Homo sapiens: one gene and its partners. The protein of the gene in region 4 purifies or fractionates together with the protein of the main gene of each other region. This does not show direct contact. Each region holds a gene or a part of one and is shown on either strand. Other genes may lie near its edges.

The links.
Region 1: the proteins of DCK (region 4) and DACH1 purify together in Homo sapiens (affinity purification with mass spectrometry; one large-scale study listed by BioGRID and IntAct). This does not show direct contact.
Region 2: the proteins of DCK (region 4) and KLK3 purify together in Homo sapiens (affinity purification with mass spectrometry; one large-scale study listed by BioGRID and IntAct). This does not show direct contact.
Region 3: the proteins of DCK (region 4) and THOP1 fractionate together in Homo sapiens (co-fractionation; one large-scale study listed by BioGRID). This does not show direct contact.

The regions. Positions count from the first base shown.
Region 1 is NC_000013.11:71,437,093-71,441,686, forward strand, and holds the end of DACH1 (dachshund homolog 1), read right to left. Parts: intron 3,601-4,594; coding exon 3,563-3,600; 3' UTR 874-3,562; downstream 1-873. UniProt on the Homo sapiens protein: Transcription factor that is involved in regulation of organogenesis. Seems to be a regulator of SIX1, SIX6 and probably SIX5.
Region 2 is NC_000019.10:50,853,059-50,858,529, reverse strand, and holds the start of KLK3 (prostate-specific antigen isoform 1 preproprotein), read right to left. Parts: upstream 3,616-5,471; 5' UTR 3,575-3,615; coding exon 3,529-3,574; intron 2,291-3,528; coding exon 2,131-2,290; intron 502-2,130; coding exon 215-501; intron 72-214; coding exon 1-71. UniProt on the Homo sapiens protein: Hydrolyzes semenogelin-1 thus leading to the liquefaction of the seminal coagulum.
Region 3 is NC_000019.10:2,798,498-2,803,221, reverse strand, and holds part of THOP1 (thimet oligopeptidase), read right to left. Parts: intron 3,534-4,724; coding exon 3,431-3,533; intron 1,192-3,430; exon of another isoform or gene 1-1,191. UniProt on the Homo sapiens protein: Involved in the metabolism of neuropeptides under 20 amino acid residues long. Involved in cytoplasmic peptide degradation. Able to degrade the amyloid-beta precursor protein and generate amyloidogenic fragments.
Region 4 is NC_000004.12:71,016,832-71,021,555, reverse strand, and holds part of DCK (deoxycytidine kinase), read right to left. Parts: intron 1-4,724. UniProt on the Homo sapiens protein: Phosphorylates the deoxyribonucleosides deoxycytidine, deoxyguanosine and deoxyadenosine. Has broad substrate specificity, and does not display selectivity based on the chirality of the substrate.

The DNA of each region.
Region 1 (4,594 bases), on a different chromosome or scaffold from region 4:
TGAAAACACATGGGGGCAAACCTAAATTATCACTGAGTTTCACTAACATCCAGAGACTGCATGATGTTCTAGTGCTAGTCTTACTGACATAAACATATGATGACAGAAGACAAAAATGTGCTTGTAATGGTCACATCATAAACGTTTTAGGTTTTATTAAGGAAAAAAATCATAATTTAATATACTGTTTCAAGAATTCATTAAAATCATACCTTTAGACAGAAAAATTCATTTTCCTTTCTCTTGGGAATGTTTAGAATATTCACAGAGATAGCAACCCGATAGTTCTTCAAATGCTGCACTTTTGATTGATTAAAGTGTTTATGTATTATTAAAGGATATTGTAATTTCAAAGTTTCTAAAGGCATTTTTTTTCCAAAGATAGAGATCAAAAGCAAAACACTGAGTTAGAGTTACAAATCTCCACTCATAGATATGGGAATAATATATTTTGTTCCATCAACATGTCTACTTTGCATTATTCAGCACAAAGCTTTGTGAAATAAGAATCATGGGAATATAAGAATATAAAGAAAAAAGGTACAAATAACAGCTTCATAAACTGAGAAATGTACATAAATAAATCATGTATATGTGGGCAGTTTGCTTAGCTGGCAAGAAACAAAATATGGAAAATCTGCTTGTTAAACAATAACTACAGAGTGTGCTTTTATGATGTTTTTCACCACAGTAATTCATATTAGAGATAGAAGCAGTTGCATGTTAAATAAAATCATTGAGCATTGTTCCCCTTGCATTGCAAAGAGCTGACTTGTGTTGTTTTTAGATGCCTCCCATTAGAAAGTAAATATTCCTTCAATGCTATGCATTTCACAAAATTTAATAAAGATGAACTGTAAATAAAGTCACAGGGAGATTTCAGACAGTTTTATTAGGAGATTGTTGAAAAGGAAAAGAAAATTAAATACAATAACAGTAAACGTGGTTCTCACATTGAAACCAGGCTCAAATAACTAGGCTACCATAGAAAAATTTCCAATTCTTGCATTATGATGTAAAAACAGATTTTTGTACAGATTTTGTACAACAAAATTCGTAATAACCTTTTATCATTTTTAGAAAACTTTAAATATATAGATAAAAATAGACAATTTTCATAGGTCCTACATGAAGATGAGTATGTTCTGTTCCAAGGGCTTGCATAGAGCGCAAATGTGGTTATAATATAGAACAACTAGACATTAATATTTTTAGGATTACAAAAGCATGGAAACCATAAAATGGGCACATTTTACTTGTTTATGCCAAAACACAAATTTCCAAACCAACCTGTATAACTAAAACAGGGAAAAAATTAAGTTACAGACTTACAATAACATTTCATGAATTGTAATATTTACAACATGTTAGTAAGAGTCTCTCTTAACATACAGCTGATAGCTTTTTTCTTTAATCCTTGCTAAAATTTCCTTTTATTTCAAATCAAACACTAAAGCATTCTCAAAGGTCTTCAAATATGTATTTTAAAACTATTTAATCCACATAACAAACAGGTGACTCTATGCCAGGAGCAGAGCAATGGCTGATTCTACTACATATGTAAGTTGTAGGCTTTTTTAAAAATCTTTCAAAAAATGTATGATGCAAAAAGCTTGACACAAGTCCATTCAATTTTAAGTGTTGTAATCCTTTAAAGACTGCATATAGGGAAACAAACACATAGAACTAGGAAAAGAATCCCTTGTGCTCAAACAACAAAAGGTGGTTATGGAAGAACTATGCTTAGAAAACCAAGTTTCTACAAATCATTTACTAGCAATACTTTAAATAAAAATAATGCTCCCTTTGTAAGCAAGCTAAAATAGGAACTGTACATATAACCTTTTTATGGTATTAAAAAGATGAACTTAGCTGGCTAATAGTGAGCTACACAAAAGAATTATGTTCCAGTATTGCAAGGAAGACCTAAAAGGTATAGAAGCGTAATGCCAGAGTATCTATAATGTTAATTTTTTCTTAATCAAGTAATTAATACCCAATCAGAACTATATTTAAACATTTTAAGCTAGTTTTCTTAGACATTGAAGATTTTGCTGTTTTGTGGTAATAAATAATGTTACGATCATACAATTTTAAGATGACAGAAAAATCATAAAATGTATAGTGACCGTACTGATTCATATCAGTCTTTAAAGGTGTAATTCCAGATATGCAAAAAACAAAGAGAAGGTAACTTTAGCATGTAATAAGCACTGTTTGCCGCTTTACTTCCAGTTATCTGCACGAAAGTGAAAACACATACTGTAACTTTCAAAAAGACAGTGAAAATAACACATAGCCACCCTTCCCTCTGACAAGGGTGGGAAGCACAGCACATTTTAACTTTATCACTCAGCGCTACATGGTATTGGACTGGTACATCAAGGTTTGTTAGGTTTTGTTTTCAGCAACATTAACATAATATGACGTTAACATATAAAAATATTTCTGGTGTTTTGATTTGCTGTTCAGCCACAATCCATTCCCAATAGTGCAGCTTGGGGCACTAGCTAGGGTTCAATATACAAATAAAAGTGGCTGACACAGAGTTCTGATGTCACCAGATGCTTAAGATCTCATTCATTAATACTGTGACTCCAGACAAATATTTACATGCCTGCATGCGTTAAAACCAGAAAGACATCTTTCTGACCAACAGGGTGACAAAACATATTTTCTAAAATTTTCATTTTCCTAAACTCTAGTATACTACTGCATACATAATACCTTCCTTGTGTGTTTTATGTTTATATACTGTACATATGACCAACAGTTTGAATAAGAAGCAACATTATTATCTTTAATTCTACATACCACTACCAGTTTGGAATGAAAACATGTTACACTTATATATTTTTTTTTATTTTTAAGAAAAAAAAACCTTCAGTGAAAGCTTTTGGCTTATATTCAATGCTTCTTTTCAGATATGCAAAATGTTATTTCATTGGGTTGTTGTCAACATCCATTTGTTGGTCTTTTGGAAAGTATGTGAAAAAAAATTCTTCAGGAGAAAACCCACAATTAGAGAGTTTGAAATTGAATGTAACAGAAAATCACTCTTGCATTTTTTTTTTTCAAGAATCCTCTATGCCCCCTACAAGTTCATTCGTTCATTCCAAGTGTTCTTGCTGGTTTCTGGAGGACATAATTCTGTAAGTCTGGGTAACCACTGCTACAAGAGTCTCTTGATGTGCTCAGATACAGAATTTTCAGAAGAGGAAAATGGTTCATTCCATTAGAAAAAAACAAAGCTAGGTCTTATTCAGACCTGCCTTTAACTCTGTATACAATTGTCCAGCAGCAAGTTGCAGTAATTAACTGTAAGAACTTTGATACTTGTACATTTACAAACATTCTCAGGTCTCTGGTATGAACCACAGGTGAAAATCAATGGAGAAAACTTTTTTTTTTTTTGTAGAATACTTAAACTTTTAAAGAACATTAATACACAAAATTCAGGAAGTTCCCTTAAAAGGACTTTATTTTTTTCTGAACTTTCCCATGACGAATGTCTGACTGCAAAGTTCTTTTCTATAACATGGATTTCTTCAACAGGAAAGATTCAGTACATGACAGTAGTTTTCAAATACAGTCTTCCATCTAGAAATGAACAGTGAAAAATTAATTAATGGCATGGTATTTGGGGTACAAATGTGCATGTAAAAATGATGTAACTTGATATAAAATTTGTAGTTTTTATTAGATCTTTACTTGGTTAAGAAGTAACATTTTTCATATCTTCTCAAAGTTAAGTTAATTTCATAATTACACTGAGTTTATGTGACTGAAAAGAATACAGCATTTCTACTTCTCATAAATATATATTTGCTATTTTGATATCAGTTCCAGAGCACTCAGAAAATAGCTAAGAGTATGTGTGTGTATTTTACTGATATGCAAAGTTAGTTGATTTCTGTTGAATAACAATTACTTCCTTCAAGCTTGCAGAACCAAATTTTCTCTGAATGCACTCAGGTGTATCTCCATCAGGAAAGACTGAACTCCCATCTTACTCTTTAGCAGTGTTGTTAAATATACCATGTAATGTAACTATTGTGCACATTCGTTGCTATTTATATGAAAGCCAGCTAGGTTATTTCATCACTGTCAATGAACTATAGCCTTTACCCCTTGAAGTGAGATTCATCCAACAATTAAATATTAAAATGTAAACACTGTATATTATTCAACTTTTACTAATGAGCAAACACACAGTTGTGTGAAAAAGAAAAGGAAATCAAATCTTAGAGACATCGAATAAATCCATTTGAATGAAGCACTAATAAGAAATAGGAAATTAAAAGTCCAAACCAAAAATAAAACAATAACAATACCAAACATAAGCATATTTCTCAAATATTTAATACCCTCTAAACTGTCTACTTCCTGGTATGGCCTAAACTTTGTATATATTTGTCTAATATATGTCTGAAATTCAAATTTTAATATGTACAGTAGAAAGGAGAACAATCAGAAAAGGAAAGTTTTCCGAGCTTTGAAAAGTACATATTGCCATGTAAATGTTTGCAAAATGTCTGGTAACTGGAAGAATTAAAATATAAGAAAACATAAATGACCTATAGTACATTCAGGA
Region 2 (5,471 bases), on a different chromosome or scaffold from region 4:
GTGAACTTGCGCACACACGTCATTGGAAATAACATGGAGGTCCACACACTGAAGTTTCTTTGGGGTCAAGACTACGGGCCAGGCAAAAACACTGTTGTGGGCTGGACCCCACCTGGTTCCTTGGCCCTCCTCCCTCAGACCTAGGAGTCCTGTCCCCTCCTCCCTCAGACCCAGGCATCTGGGCTCCCGGCTGCACCATCTGGCCCAGGCGTACACTCCTCTGGTTCAATGCTGCCCCAGCCTGAGGCGTAGCAGGTGGTCCCCAGTGCTGGCTCCTGGGTGGGCAGGTCCATGACCTTCACAGCATCCGTGAGCTCGGCAGGCTCTGACAGGCGGAGCAGCATGAGGTCGTGGCTGGAGTCATCACCTGGCCTGAGGAATCGATTCTTCAGGAGGCTCATATCGTAGAGCGGGTGTGGGAAGCTGTGGCTGACCTGAAATACCTGGCCTGTGTCTTCAGGATGAAACAGGCTGTGCCGACCCAGCAAGATCACGCTTTTGCTGGGGAGGAAGCAGACGCAGGAATGAGGAGCGAGGATGATAAGGAAAGAGAGAAGGGACAGAGGAGCAAGGAGGAGGCTCCAAAAGAGAAAAAGAAACAGTGAGAAAAACACAGGGTTGGGGAAGACACAGTTCAGGCCAAAAATACAGACAACGAGTTGGGAAACAGCAGTGTGAGAGGGTGAAGGGCAGATACAGAAACTGAGAGAAACCAAGGGAAAAAGGAAGAGGGTAAAAGGACAGAGAGAATGAAAGGGCAGAGGGGAGAACAGTGACAAACAAGGTGAGCCGAAAATACACAGGATGAGAAAGAAAAGACAGAAACATAGAGAAACAGACATGGGCCAGAGAAAGAGAGAGAGAAGAACAAAACCAGGCAGAAAGTGAGAAACAGATGAATGAGAAAGGGAAGCAGGAAGTCAAAGGAAGAATGAGAACCAAGTAGAGAGGAATCCGGGGGATGATAGAGTGTGGGAGAGAAAAGGGAGAGAGACTTTGGAGCTGAGTGGGGACCGCTGGGGAGGGGAGGCCTCAGAGTGGCTCAGCTGTAGATGCGGCTTTGGCGTGGGTTTCCAAGTGGGTAGGTAGCCTGGCCTGCAGGCCCAAGGTTGTATCCTCCACTTCGCTCCCCAGGGTCCTTTCCCCCATACCCTGTTTTCCTTCCCCCTTCTCCTTCCTCCTCCCTCAATTGCCCCTCCCAGCTCCAGCTGGAACCAGCCCTTCTCTGTGTCTCCCAAGAGTGGAGGGATGTCCTGGAGAAGGAATGGAGTGAGAGGGGCCCTCTCATACCCTCATACCCACACACATCAGGGATAAAACACTTCCTTTTCTTTTCTTTTCTTTTCTTTTTTTTTTTTTTTTTTTTTGAGGCGGAGTCTCACTCTGTCACCCAGGCTGGAGTGCAGTGGCACGGTCTCGGCTCACTGCAACCTCCACCTCCCAGGTTCAAGCAATTCTCCTCCCTCAGCCTCCTGAGTAGCTGGGACTACAGGCATGCGCCACCACGCCTGGCTAATTTTTTGTATTTTTAGTAGAGATGGGGTTTCACCAGTTGGCCAGGCTGGTCTCGAACTCCTGACCTCAGGTGATCTACCTGCCTTGGCCTCCCAAAGTGCTGGGATTACAGGTGTGAGCCACCGCGCCCAGCCAAAGCCCTTCCTTTTCTCAGGGTCCCCCCAGGCCCATCCCATGCGTGTGCTCAGTAGGGAGAAGGCACAGGTGAGACAGAGACCGAGAGACAGAGCCTGGCAGAGAGATACAGGGTGAGACACACTGGCTAGAGAGGGACCAGAGAAGGACAGAGAGAGGGGGAGATATGGAGACTGAAGACAGAGAAGAGAGGGAGAGAGAGAACAAAATAGTCACACGGAGAGACACAACCGAAGCCAGTTACCAAGAGACATAATGAAAGCGACACAAAGAGACATAGAGGAACACAGATGGAGACCCAGGCAGCCATGGGGAGGGTGGTCCAGCCCCAACCCTGCCTCCCCATGTGACCTGAACCAGAACTTTCCCTCTCTCCCCCAGTCCCAAGGCTGGCCTTAGAGGTTATCCTGGGGAAAATGCCCAGCTGTTATTCCTCTGGGACACAGACACCTGCTCCCCAGACCCCAGGCCCCTACTCACTTCCTGATGCAGTGGGCAGCTGTGAGGACCCACTGGGGGTGCACCAGAACACCGCCGCAGACTGCCCTGCCACGAGAGGCCACAAGCACCTGCCAGGGTTGGGAATGCTTCTCGCACTCCCAGCCTCCCACAATCCGAGACAGGATGAGGGGTGCAGCACCTGCAGAGGGGGTGCTAGATCAGGGGAATCAGGGTTGACAGGAGGAACTGGGGGACTCGGATAGGAGATGGATTTAGGATGTGGGTTTGAAAAGACACGGGGGCAGAGAACCAAGGCTGGGAGTCCTGGGACATGGGCAGGGGGAGCTGGGAAAGGCTGGGAATTCTGTCAATCTTCCCTAGGTTTGCAGGTTGGTGGCTGGTGCTGGTGGAGAGGCTTCATGCTCTGGGAGCAGAGTTGAACCCAGGGATCAGGGTAGGAGACACAAGACAGCGCCCAGACCATATCTTGAGTCTGGGGATTGGGTCCTTTGTGGTGATTTGGGGTCTTGGACTGGGAGAAGGGAAACTTGGTACAAGTTGTGGATTCTGAGGGGATAAGCGGTGCTAGGAACCAGGGATAAGTGCCTTATGGCGAGGTTCAGTTGCTGGAAGAGGAAGGTTTTGGAAAGTTTAGGAAGTCCCAGGTTGAGAAAACAGTTCTGGTCTGAGTTGGTTTTGTTTTATTTGTTTTTCTTTTTGTTTTTAGGTTTTGAAAAGGATGCAGATTTGGGGAATCAGAGAGCTGGCAGTTGTGGCTGGGGATGCTCATGTTTTTCCTAAGGAAAATGTGGGCCACTGAATGAAGAGTCTGGGGCTAAGAGTCAGGGAATGAGGAGTTCTCAGAGTCCCATTGCCAGACTGAGGGACCCATTTGTTGTCTCAGGCCAGATAGCCTGGCTAGGAAGAAGGAGGTGTCTGGTTGGCATCTGGGTATCCTAGGGCAAGATTGGGAGGCCAAGCATCAAGGTCTCTGGGATAGGGTTGGGCACTCACAGCTGAATGGGAAAAGTCAGTAGACTGTGATAGGATTGAGGGGCTCAGGAGGTGGACCAGTGATACGGTCCAAGGAACCAATGGCATTGAGAGAGGTCCTTGGAGGTTTTGAGCCCCACAAAGAGAAACACGGAGATGCCCAGGAACTTCCCCTTTAGTAAAGCAGCTGGGAGCAGGGAGCTGGCTGGGCAATGGGGAGAAAGTTCTGGGGTAAGTGGGAGGGAGCGGGGACCTGGTGTGGGAGTGAGGACTGTTGCAATATGGAGGGGCTGGGGGTATGGGCTTGGAGTGGGGCTGGGAGAGACAGAAAAGAGCCCAGCTCCCTGTCTGGGCTGGGGTGCTGGGTTGGGGGGGAAAGAGCCTCAGCTTGACAGTCAGGGCTGGCTCCCTCTCCTGCATCCCCCCAACCATGGCCCCTCTCACCAATCCACGTCACGGACAGGGTGAGGAAGACAACCGGGACCCACATGGTGACACAGCTCTCCGGGTGCAGGTGGTAAGCTTGGGGCTGGGGAGCCTCCCCCAGGAGCCCTATAAAACCTTCATTCCCCAGGACTCCGCCCCTGCCCTGCTGGCACCCAGAGGCTGACCAAGGCCCTCCCCATGCTGCTGGAGGCTGGACAACCCCCTCCCACACCCAGAGCTGTGGAAGGGGAGGGAGAGCTAGCACTTGCTGTTCTGCAATTACTAGATCACCCTGGATGCACCAGGCCCTGTAGCTCATGGAGACTTCATCTAGGGGACAAAGGCAGAGGAGACACGCCCAGGATGAAACAGAAACAGGGGGTGGGTACGATCCCCGATTCTTCATACAAAGCCTCACGTGCCTAGATCCTTTGCACTCCAAGACCCAGTGTGCCCTAAGACACCAGCACTCAGGAGATTGTGAGACTCCCTGATCCCTGCACCACTCTGAGACCAGAAACTAGAACTTTTATTCCTCATGCTCCTGAAATAGATGTCTTGGCATTTAGTACATTCTTTTCCTTGCACTCCCAACCCAGAATCCAGCTCCACAGATACATTGCTACTGTCATCATAAAAAGATCTTGTGGTCCACAGATCCTCTAGCCCAGAAATATGAGTCTCCCAAAGTTCCCTAGCATTTCAAAATCCAACGTGCAGCAAACAATGTGGAATTCCAATAACCCCCCACTCCTTGTTCTCCAGACCTGTGCACTCTATCTGTGCAACAGAGATGCCTGCTGACCTGCCCTCCCAGGTCAGAATCATCCTCATGCAAAATCCAATGCCCCTTCTCCAACAAAATATTTAGCCTTTAGGAGCCAGGTTTATGTACCTCAAGATTAAACGACAGGTCAGTCATGGTGGCTCACGCCTGTAATCCCAACACTTTCCGAGGCCAAGGTAGGAGGATCACTTGAAGCCAGGAGTTCAAGGCCAACCAGAGAAACAAAGCAAGATCCATCTCTACAAAAAAAAAAAAAAAATTTTTTTTTTTTGAGACAGAGTCTCACTCTGTCACCCAGGCTGGAGTGCAGTGGCGCAATCTCGGCTCATTGCAACCTCTGCCTTCTGGGTTCAAGTGATTCTCCTGCCTCAGCCTCCTCAGTAGCTGGGATTACAGGTGCCGTGTGCCACCACGCCCGGCTAATTTTTCTATTTTTTTTTTTTTTAGTAGAGACAGAGTTTCACCATGTTGGTCAGGCTGGTCTCAAACTCCTGACCTCGTGATCCACCCATCTCAGCCTCCCATGGTGTTGGGATTACAGGCGTGAGCCACTGTGCCCGGCCCCCCAAAAAATTTAAAAATTATCTGGATATGGTGGTGGACTACTGTAGTCTTAGCTATTGGGAGACCGAAGCAGGAGAATCTCTTAAGGCCAGGAGTTCAAGGCTACAGTGAGCTGTGATCACGCCATTGAACTCCAGCCTGGGAAATAGAATGAGACTGAAACCTCGATTTAAAAAAAAAAAAAAAAAGATTAAGGTGGCATGCAAAATCACAATTTGTAGTCTCAGAAGAGAATCGGGAACTCTTAAGAGCCCTGGTACCTCCACTGTTAACTCCGTAAGATTTCATCAATTTCCAAAAAGTTGGTTATTTCAGCTGTTCAATAAAACCAGAGTAGCTCACTTGATCCAGCCCGAGCTGTGTCTCAAGAATTTGACAAAAGTGGCTGGGCGCGGTGGCTGACGCCTGTAATCCCAGCACTTTGGGAGGCTGAGGCAGGTGGATCACCAGGTCAGGAGTTCGAGGCCAGCCTGGCAAACATTGGTGAAACCCCATCTCTACTAAAAATACAAAAATTAGCTGGGCATGGTGCTGCATGCCTGTAATCCCAGCAACTCAGGAGGCTGAGGCAGGAGAATCACTTGAACCTGGGAGGCAGAGGTTGCAGTGA
Region 3 (4,724 bases), on a different chromosome or scaffold from region 4:
GGAATGCTGCTCCCTGGCAGTGGTGAACACATCCGGTGCCTAAGTCACCCTCCACTCAAAGGCGCCAGGTCTCCTCCAAGAAATGGAGCATCTGAGGGCTGGGGCAGGGAGAGCATGGGACGAGCCTGCGACATCACATGTCCAACAGTAAGAGTGGGCTCAGAGGCCGAGCCTGCGGTACCGCGCGCCCCACAGTAAGCGCGGGCTCAGAGGCCGAGCCTGCGGTACCATGTGCCCCACAGTAAGAGCAGGTTCAGAGGACAGCAGGTGCATTACAAGGACACAGGGATTGTTCGGAGGGACTCCTGAGGGTCCATGTGGGACGATTTGAGCACTGGGATAAATGATAATGAATGATAACCCGGGAATAAGACAGAAGCCTCATGCACACGGACAGAAACAAATCAGTAAGAAGACAGGCAAGGAGGGAAGGTTCGGAGTCACGGCAGGATGACTGATGCCCAGAGGGTGAGGGCGGCAGAAGTCATCCATGGACATGGCAACTAGTGTATGACAATGTGCGAGTGATGGACACTCACAGGTCTCTGCTCTGGTTGGGTGCGTCCCCTCCAAAATGCACCAGGAACTTAATGCCAGAGATGGTGGTGTCGGGAGATGCGGGTATCGGGAGGTGGCGGTGTCGGGAGGTGGGGGTGTCGGAAGGTGTTGGTGTCGGGAGGTGTTGGTGTCGGGAGGTGTGGGTGTCGTGAGGTGTTGGTGTCGGGAGGTGTTGGTGTCGGGAGGTGTTGGTGTCGGGAGGTGGGGGTGTCGGGAGGTGTTGGTGTTGGGAGGTGGGGGTGTCGGGAGGTGGGGGTGTCAGGAGGTGTTAGTGTTGGGAGGTGGGGGTGTGGGGAAGTGTTGGTGTTGGGAGGTGTTGGTGTCGGGAGGTGGGGGTGTCGGGAAGTGGGGGTGTCGGGAGGTGTTGGTATTGGGAGGTGGGGGTGTCGGGAGGTGGGTGTGTCGGGAGGTGTTGGTGTTGGGAGGTGGGTGGGTCAGGAGGTGGGGGTGTCCGGAGGTGGAGGTATCGGGAGACGGCGGTGTTGGAGGTGGCGGTGTTGGAGATGGTGGTGTTGGAGGTGGCAGTGTTGGAGATGGTGGTGTTGGAGGTGGTGGTATTGAGAGGTAGCAGTATTGGGAGATGTGGGTATCGGGAGATGGCAGTGTTGGGAGGTGGCGGTATTGAGAGGTAGCGGTATCGGGAGATGTGGGTATTGGGAGATGTGGGTATCGGGAGATGGCGGTGTTGGAGATGGTGGTATTGGGAGATGGCAGGATTAGGTACTGGGGCCTTCAAGAGGCAGCTGGGTCATGTGGCCTCTGCCTTCAGGAATGGATGAATCCATTCATGGATTCATGGATGAAGGGACAGATGGGTTAATGTGGCAGAGGGCCTGGGGCTTTGTGAGGAGGAGAGACCTGGGTGGAACCGGCTCGCTTAGCCCCCTCCCCTTGCCATGTGACACCCTGGCCGCCTCAGGGCTCCAGAGTCCCCACCAGGAAGAAGGCCCTGGCCAGATATGGCCCCTCGACCTGGGACTTCTCAGCCTCCAGAGCTGTGACAAGTTAATTCCTTTTCTTATAAACTACATGGCCTTAGGTTTTCTGTTGTAAGCAGAAGAAAAGGAACTAAGACCATCGCAAGGCGTCTCCTGAGAAATGACGGACCACAAAGGGAAACAGGTCCCGGGGCAGCAGCAGCGGACAGCCCTGGAGACTGTCACCCAACACGCTAGCCACCCGCATGACGGTGTCACCTGGCCACATGGGACTCAAGCCACCTGCACGGGAGACCCCTCAGGCCCGACAAATGGAACGGCACCCCAAAGAGTTAGACACCAAAATCCACAAACATTCGAGTTTGCAGGATGGCAAACGTGAAAAGAAACAGGCAGCTGAAACGCCGACAAGAACAAAACTGGCTGAAACCGGCTGGAACCCACATGAGCCAGCAGAGTCTGTGCAGAACCAGCTGGCTGATGCCAACTGAACTTCCACCGCGCTTCATACAGACTTCCCCAGGATTCACACCCAGGACCCACGAGCTGGCACGGACAGATAACTGTGCGTGCCCAAGGACCTTCCAGACCTCCCCTTTCCTTCCAACAATCACCTGCTAATCCCAGAATCCACCTCTGCACCTTCTCTCATGAAAGTACTGCCTGAAAGCTGGCACAGGAGGCAGATTTGAGCTGGACGCCCAGTCTCCTTGGGAGTCACTTGCAATGAGAAGCTTTTGTTTCCTCAAATCCTTGGTGCCATGGCATTGGCTTCTAGAACATCAGGCACCGAGTCCTTCTGCTTGCTAACACGAGCAGGCAGGAGAAGCAGCCCCACGGGGATGGTGCGGGTGGCCGCGGGGACGGTGCGGGTGGCCGCGGGATGGCGTGGGTGGCTGCGGGAATGGTGCGGGTGATCAGTGCACCCACTGAGGGGCAGGCTGGGAAACGTGCTTTACGGCAGATTGTAGCCCGTCGTCTCTCCTGAGTGCCAGAAGCTGAGGGTAGGATGTGCTGCCCGAGACACGGGAGGGCTGAGCAAGTGGCTGGCAGCCAAGCTTGGCAGTGCCCGACCTGCGAGTGTTCCCTCAGGAAACATACGCCCAGGTGACCACACATCAAGCCACCTGCGGAGGCCTCCGGCCATGAGGGCCTTGTCCCCACCCACCACCTCAGAGGCAACTACATTCAGAGTCTAGAACTGGAGGTTATATTCTATAGCACCCATCAGAATATTCCGGCCTGCCTGGGCACGGTGGCTCATGCCTGTAATCCCAGAACTTTGGGAGGTTGAGGCAGGCAGATCCTGAGCCCAGGAGTCTGAGACCACCCTGGCCAACACGGCGAAACCGTCTCTACTAAAAATAAAAAAATTTGCCAGGTGTGATGGCATACGTCTGTAGTCCCAGCTACTCAGGAGGCTGAGACAGGAGAATCACTTGAACCCGGGGGACGGAGGTTGCAGTGAGTGGAGGTCGCACCACTGCACTCCAGCCTGGGCAACAGAGCAAGACTCCATCTCAAAATAAATTAATTAATTAATTAAATTAAATAAATAAAGGCAGGCAGGAAGTGGGGTCTCAAGGGAAAATTGTGGTTCCCTCAGGGCCATGGCTGAGACTGGCACCCTTGGCCACCCCGTCCGGCCTGGGCTTCCGCCACTGCCAGGGACATTTTCTATCAGGGTGGAATCTTGGTGGGACAGACCATGGCCCTCCCCAAGGAGGGCTCAGAGCTTTTGGCTGTAAACGGCCCTGGAGCGCTTCCGGTGAGGAAAGTCCTCAGCCCAGGGCGGTCAGGTCCACGTACTTCGGCCTCCCGCCGCCCTTCAGCACAGAAGCCCACAGGAGGAAGCGGCGGCCCCCGAGGGCCTGGCAGGCCTGCACTGAGTCCCAGGACCGATGGCCACCCGTGCCCCACTGCTCGGCCCCTACCTAGCTCCTGGAGCGTGAAGGGCAGGAAGGTCGTGTCCTCGTTCAGGTTCTTGTTGAAGTCGATGCACAGAAGGCTCAGCTTCTTCTTGATGCGTTTGATGTTCTGGAGAGAAAGGCGGGGCGTGAGGGGAGGGAGAGACCGGGGCGGGCTCCGCGGGGAGACGCAACGCCTGGGAACCCTCTCGCCGAGGGCTGAGGGATTTCCCCAAGAACCAGGCCGAAAGAAGAGGCAACCGAGGAGGAAAGAGTGAGACGGGAGGCGGAGGACAGACAGACACGGAGGCCACGAGGCTGCGCAGTGTGGATTTCAACACCAGCTGCGGCATCCAAAGCTGGGTGACCTCGGGCAACCTCAGGGATGTGCTCCGGTCTGTCAGGTGTGGCCCTGGCCAAGAGTGCTCCAGACCCTCCTATCCATTAAGGAATCACCTTCAGAGCCTGCAGCCTAAGCTTTTCAACATTCTTCTGAGACAGGGACTCGCTCTGTTGCCCAGGCTGGAATGCAGTGGCATGATCTCGACTCACTGCAGCCTCAACCTCCCAACTCAATTGATCCTCCTGCCTTAGCCTCCTGAGTAGCTAGGACTACAGGTACACGCCACTACACCCAGCTAATTTTTGTATGTTTGGTACAGACGGGGTTTCACCATGTTGCTCAGGCTGGTTTCGAACTCCTGGGCTCAAGCAATCCTCCCACCTCAGCCTCCCAAAGTGCTGGGATTACAGGCATGAGTCACCGTGTCTGGCAGCTTTTGAACATTTTACCCCTTATCTGGTAAAGCTGGTTTTAGAAACAGCTAAAACTCGACCCTGGTGATATGGGATATCAACAAAGGAACTGAATCTTGAGTGGTCCCTCTGGTGGCCTTGAAGGCTGGGAGGTGACCACTATGTGACAAGGACCTGGCTTGAGGCCACATGACACATGACAGGCTGGCAGCAGGGCTGTACTTTGACTCAGATTCTCCTGCTGGAAGCTCCGCCAGGCGGGTCTGGAGCCCAGCTCCATGGGGCCAGAGCAGAAATGCTCATCCGCAGGACAGAGGGCGGCAGCAGGGGGAAACTGTGCCCAGGACTTTGCAGGGAGCCTGTATCTTGTCAGGAAGGCCCTGGTTCAGAACCAGCTGAGGGTTTGCTGGGCCTCTCCTGGGAACAGGCCCCATGCTGGGCAATTCCCAATGTCTCCCCCTCTTGCCATCTCACATAACAAACCCAGCCATGCCAGGGAAGGCTCTGGAGACTCAATGAGCACACAGCGCTGGCCCTAAGGGCCGCGGGGACGCGCTGGAACTCT
Region 4 (4,724 bases):
TAGGCATTTGTATTTGTAACCCTCCAATCTTCTAATATAATACAATAGTTCCTGCCCCAGATTTTGCAATTCAATAATCTTATTGTTAGAACCACATTTTACATGTTGAGGAAAAATACAAATGTAAATTTTAAAATGAAGTAAAAACTCTTATCATCTTTTATCTGAGTTAGAAATAGCAGGCCGGGCGCGGTGGCTCACGCCTGTAATCCCAGCACTTTGGGAGGCCGAGGCGGGTGGATCATGAGGTCAGGAGATCGAGACCATCCTGGCTAACAAGGTGAAACCCCGTCTCTACTAAAAATACAAAAAATTAGCCGGGCGCGGTGGCGGGCGCCTGTAGTCCCAGCTACTGGGGAGGCTGAGGCAGGAGAATGGCGTGAACCCGGGAAGCGGAGCTTGCAGTGAGCCGAGATTGCGCCACTGCAGTCCGCAGTCCAGCCTGGGCGACAGAGCGAGACTCCGTCTCAAAAAAAAAAAAAAAAAAAAGAAATAGCATCTGGAACACATGAATTATTTTTCTCTTTCTATAAAGTTTTCCTAGTTCTGTCCATCAAAAGGCCTATAAACAATGACAACATTGTAGGAATATACAAAAATATCACCCAGATTATAATCTCTAAATACCATTTCCCACTGAAAGGAATTAGAATTCTGATTCTAAATCTGGGGAAGAAAATATACAAGATGAGCTTCATCTTGTATATTTTAGGAAACTACTACAGACCACTGGGATTGTGCCAAGGACAAAGGAGCCAACATAAATAAGCTGCCACTGGTCAAAGAAAGAATAATTTGAACATCGAAAATGAATGGGAGGCAAAAATCCATGAGTTTATAATTCTAAACAAACAAACAAAACTCTAGTCATGTTTTGAGGCTCCTAAGGCACAAATTAATTATTCTGGGAATATGTAGGTAAAAAGAAAAAAAAAGTCCCATTTTATTTTGGCCTTTCCTGTATAAATACTTTCAGGGTAATAAAGTGGTATATGAGGAAGAGGTCTTCTTTCCTGAAGAATCCCAGCCAATAAATTCAGAAGGCTGGAGAAGGAATATCACCTTTTACAACACCTACTAATATACTGCAATGAGGCAACAATTAGCAATAGATGCTATCATTAGAGAAAAGTTAATTGGGAATTTTACAACGGATGAATCAATCTGACAACAGCTAAACTGTTTGATTTTAACATCACAAAACACATCTTCTTGATGTAAAGAAATACACATCACCAACTAGGAATCTTGCCAAAAAAGAATTGAAAGTAAATCTAATCAAGCCTGTCTCTACCTATAAATTTACTGGAAATACAGAGAACTGAAAAACATGTTAAATTTTACCAGAGATACACTCAGCCAAAACCAGAATGAGGAAAATTATGTAGAACAAATGACCCTGTTTCTTCAACAAATAAATTATAAACAAAGAGACAATCAATAGATTAAAATTTAAAAGGCATATCAAGGGCAGGCCCAGTGGTTCACGCCTGTAATCCCAACACTTTGGGAGGCCGAGGCAGGCAGATCACCTGAGATCAGGAGTTCAAGACCAGCTTGGCCAACATGGTGAAACCCTGTCTCTACCAAAAATATAAAAAATTAGCCAGGCGTGGTGGCACGCGCCTGTAATCCTAGCTACTCGGGAGGCTGAGACAGGAGAATCACTTGAACTGGGGAGGCAGAAGTTGCCGTGAGCTGAGATCATGCACTGTACTTCAGCCTGGGTGACAGAGCAAGACTTCATCTCAGAAAAATAAATTTAAAAAAAAATAAAAGGTATATCAACCACCAAATGTAACGTGTGTGAACCTGGTTTGGCTCCTAATTTCAAAAAATTACGAAAACATTATTAGACAATGGGGAAATATGAACACAGACCGGATAAGATGATAAAAAGAATTATTAATCTTTTAGATGATATGTTTTAAAAGACTATATTTCTAGAGTTCTCTGTGAGTCTGTCTTTTCCAGATGAAGTAATATATTCTCTAAGATAGAGGTTCTTCAAAGTATAGTAGGAGAAGCTCCAGGGGTCTCTGGATCTTTTCAGGAGGCTAAAGTTCTGGAGATCTGTTCATAATGACCTAAATATGCTTATAATACTACTGAGCTGTATACTTAAAAATGGTTCAGATGATAAATTTTATATTTTTGCCACAACAAAAAAATTAACTAAAAAAGACCACATACCTCCTTTTATTTTAATTTCTCAATAAATATAATCTCTCTTGCCCAAAGCAATTTCAAAGTTTACTATATTAAAATAACTTAGAGAACCAATCTTGATTCATCACCTAACAAAAAAATAATAAACTAGTTCTAAAAATACAAATATGTAAATTCAAACTGAATCAAAAATCTGAAATAGAATTTTCAGCTATGAAGATGTTATTGTCTCTTAGTTTAATAGTGTAACAAATTAGAAAATTAACAGTAAGCCAGGGTATCATTATCTGGTTCCTCAGGATAACTTATGAGTCATATAAAACATTTTCTTTTGATCCTATGCATGAAATTTGAGACAAATTGCTAGGGTTTTTTGTATGCAATTATAAATGTTAAGAATATTAAAAATTTATCCAGCCAGGTGAGGCAGCTCAGGCCTGTAATCCCAGCACTTTGGGAGTCCGAGGCAGGCGGATCACTTAAGCTCAGGAGTTCCAGACCAGCCTGGGCAACATGGCGAAACCCTGTCTCTACAAAAAATACAAAAATTAGCCAGGTATGGTGGCGTGCACCTGTAATCCCAGCTACTCCGGAGGTTGAGGTGGGAGAATTGCTTATGCCTGGGAGGTGGAGGCTGCAGTGAGCCAAGATTGTGCCACTGCACTCCAGCCTGGGTAACAGAGCAAGACTCTTGTCTCAAAAAAAAAAAAAAAAAAAAAATCTAAAAAATACTGTGCATCATCTTTACCAAACTGAATGTTAATTTTATCAAGTTCTCCCCTCTGCAAACTATCCAGATAAAAAATATGAATGTGTCAGAGTGAAACTACATTAAATACAAATTGGTAGAACATGGTTAGATAGAAAGCAGTTTAGCTACATTTGTGGGAAAAAAAAAACCTGTACCTTTTGGCCCAATTAATTCCACTGTTGAAAATTTACTTTAAAGAAATAATCTAGGCCGGGCGCAGTGGCTCACGCCTGTGATCCTAGCACTTTGGGAGGCCAAGGCGGGTGGATCACAAGGTCAGGAGATCGAGACCATCCTGGCTAACACGGTGAAACCCTGTCTCTACTAAAAATACCAAAAAAAATAGCGGGGCATGGTGGCAGGCGCCTGTAGTCTCAGCTACTCGGGAGGCTGAGGCACAAGAATGATGTGAACCTGGGAGGCGGAGCTTGCAGCAAGTTGAGATGGCGCCACTGCACTCCAGCCTGGGAGACAGAGCGAGACTCCGTCTCAAAAAAAAAAAAAAAAAAGAAATAATCTAGAATACAAATTTAACCACAAAGGTATTTATCACAAGGCTAAGCGAATAGGTTATCATTCCACTATTATTAGGCATTTATATTAAGTAAATAATAGTACATGCATACAATAAATTAGGCTGCTGTTAAAAATCATTTACAGTAAATTTTTAACAACGATTTTAATTGCCCTGATATATAAATTTTTTTTTTATACTTTAAGTTCTTGGGTACATGTGCACAACGTGCAGGTTTGTTACATATGTATACATGTGCCATGTTGGTGTACTGCACCCATTAACTCGCCATTTACATTAGGTATTTCTCCTAATGCTATCCCTCCCCCCTCCCCCCACCCCACAACAGGCCCCAGTGTGTGATGTTCACATTCCTGTGTCCAAGAGTTCTCATTGTTCAATTCCCACCTATGAGTGAGAACATGCAGTGTTTTGTTTTTTTTCCCTGCGACAGTTTGCTGAGAATGATGGTTTCCAGCTTCATCTATGTCCCTACAAAGGACATTAACTCATCCTTTTTTATGGCTGCATAGTATTCCATGGTGTATATGTGCCACATTTTCTTAATCCAGTCTATTACTGATGGACATCTGGGTTGGTTCCAAGTCTTTGCTATTGTGAACAGTGCCGCAATAAACATATGTGTGCATGTGTCTGTATAGCAGCATGATTTATAATCCTTTGGGTATATACCCACTAATGGGATGGCTGGGTCAAATGGTATTTCTAGTTCTAGATCCTTGAGGAATCACCACACTGTCTTACACATGGTTGAACTAGTTTACAGTCCCACCAACAGTGGAAAAGTGTTCCCATTTCTCCACATCCTCTGCAGCACCTGTTGTCTCCTGACTTTTTAATGATCACCATTCTAACTGGTGTGAGAGGGTATCTCATTGTGGTTTTGATTTGCATTTCTCTGATGGCCAGTGATGATGAGCATTTTTTCATGTGTCTGTTGGCTGCATAAATGTCTTCTTTTGAAAAGTGTCTGTTCATATCCTTTGCCCACTTTTTGATGGGGTTGTTTTTTTCTTGTAAATTTGTTTGAGTTCATTGTAGATTCTAGATATTAGCCCTTTGTCAGATGAGTAGATTGCAAAAATTTTCTCCCATTCTGTAGGTTGCCTGTTCACTCTGATGGTAGTTTCTTTTGCTGTGCAGAAGCTCTTGAGTTTAATTAGATCCCATTTGTCAATGTTGGCTTTTGTTGCCATTGCTTTTGGTGTTTTAGACATGAAGTCCTTGCCCATGCCTATGTCCCAAATAGTATTGCCTAGGTTTTCTTCT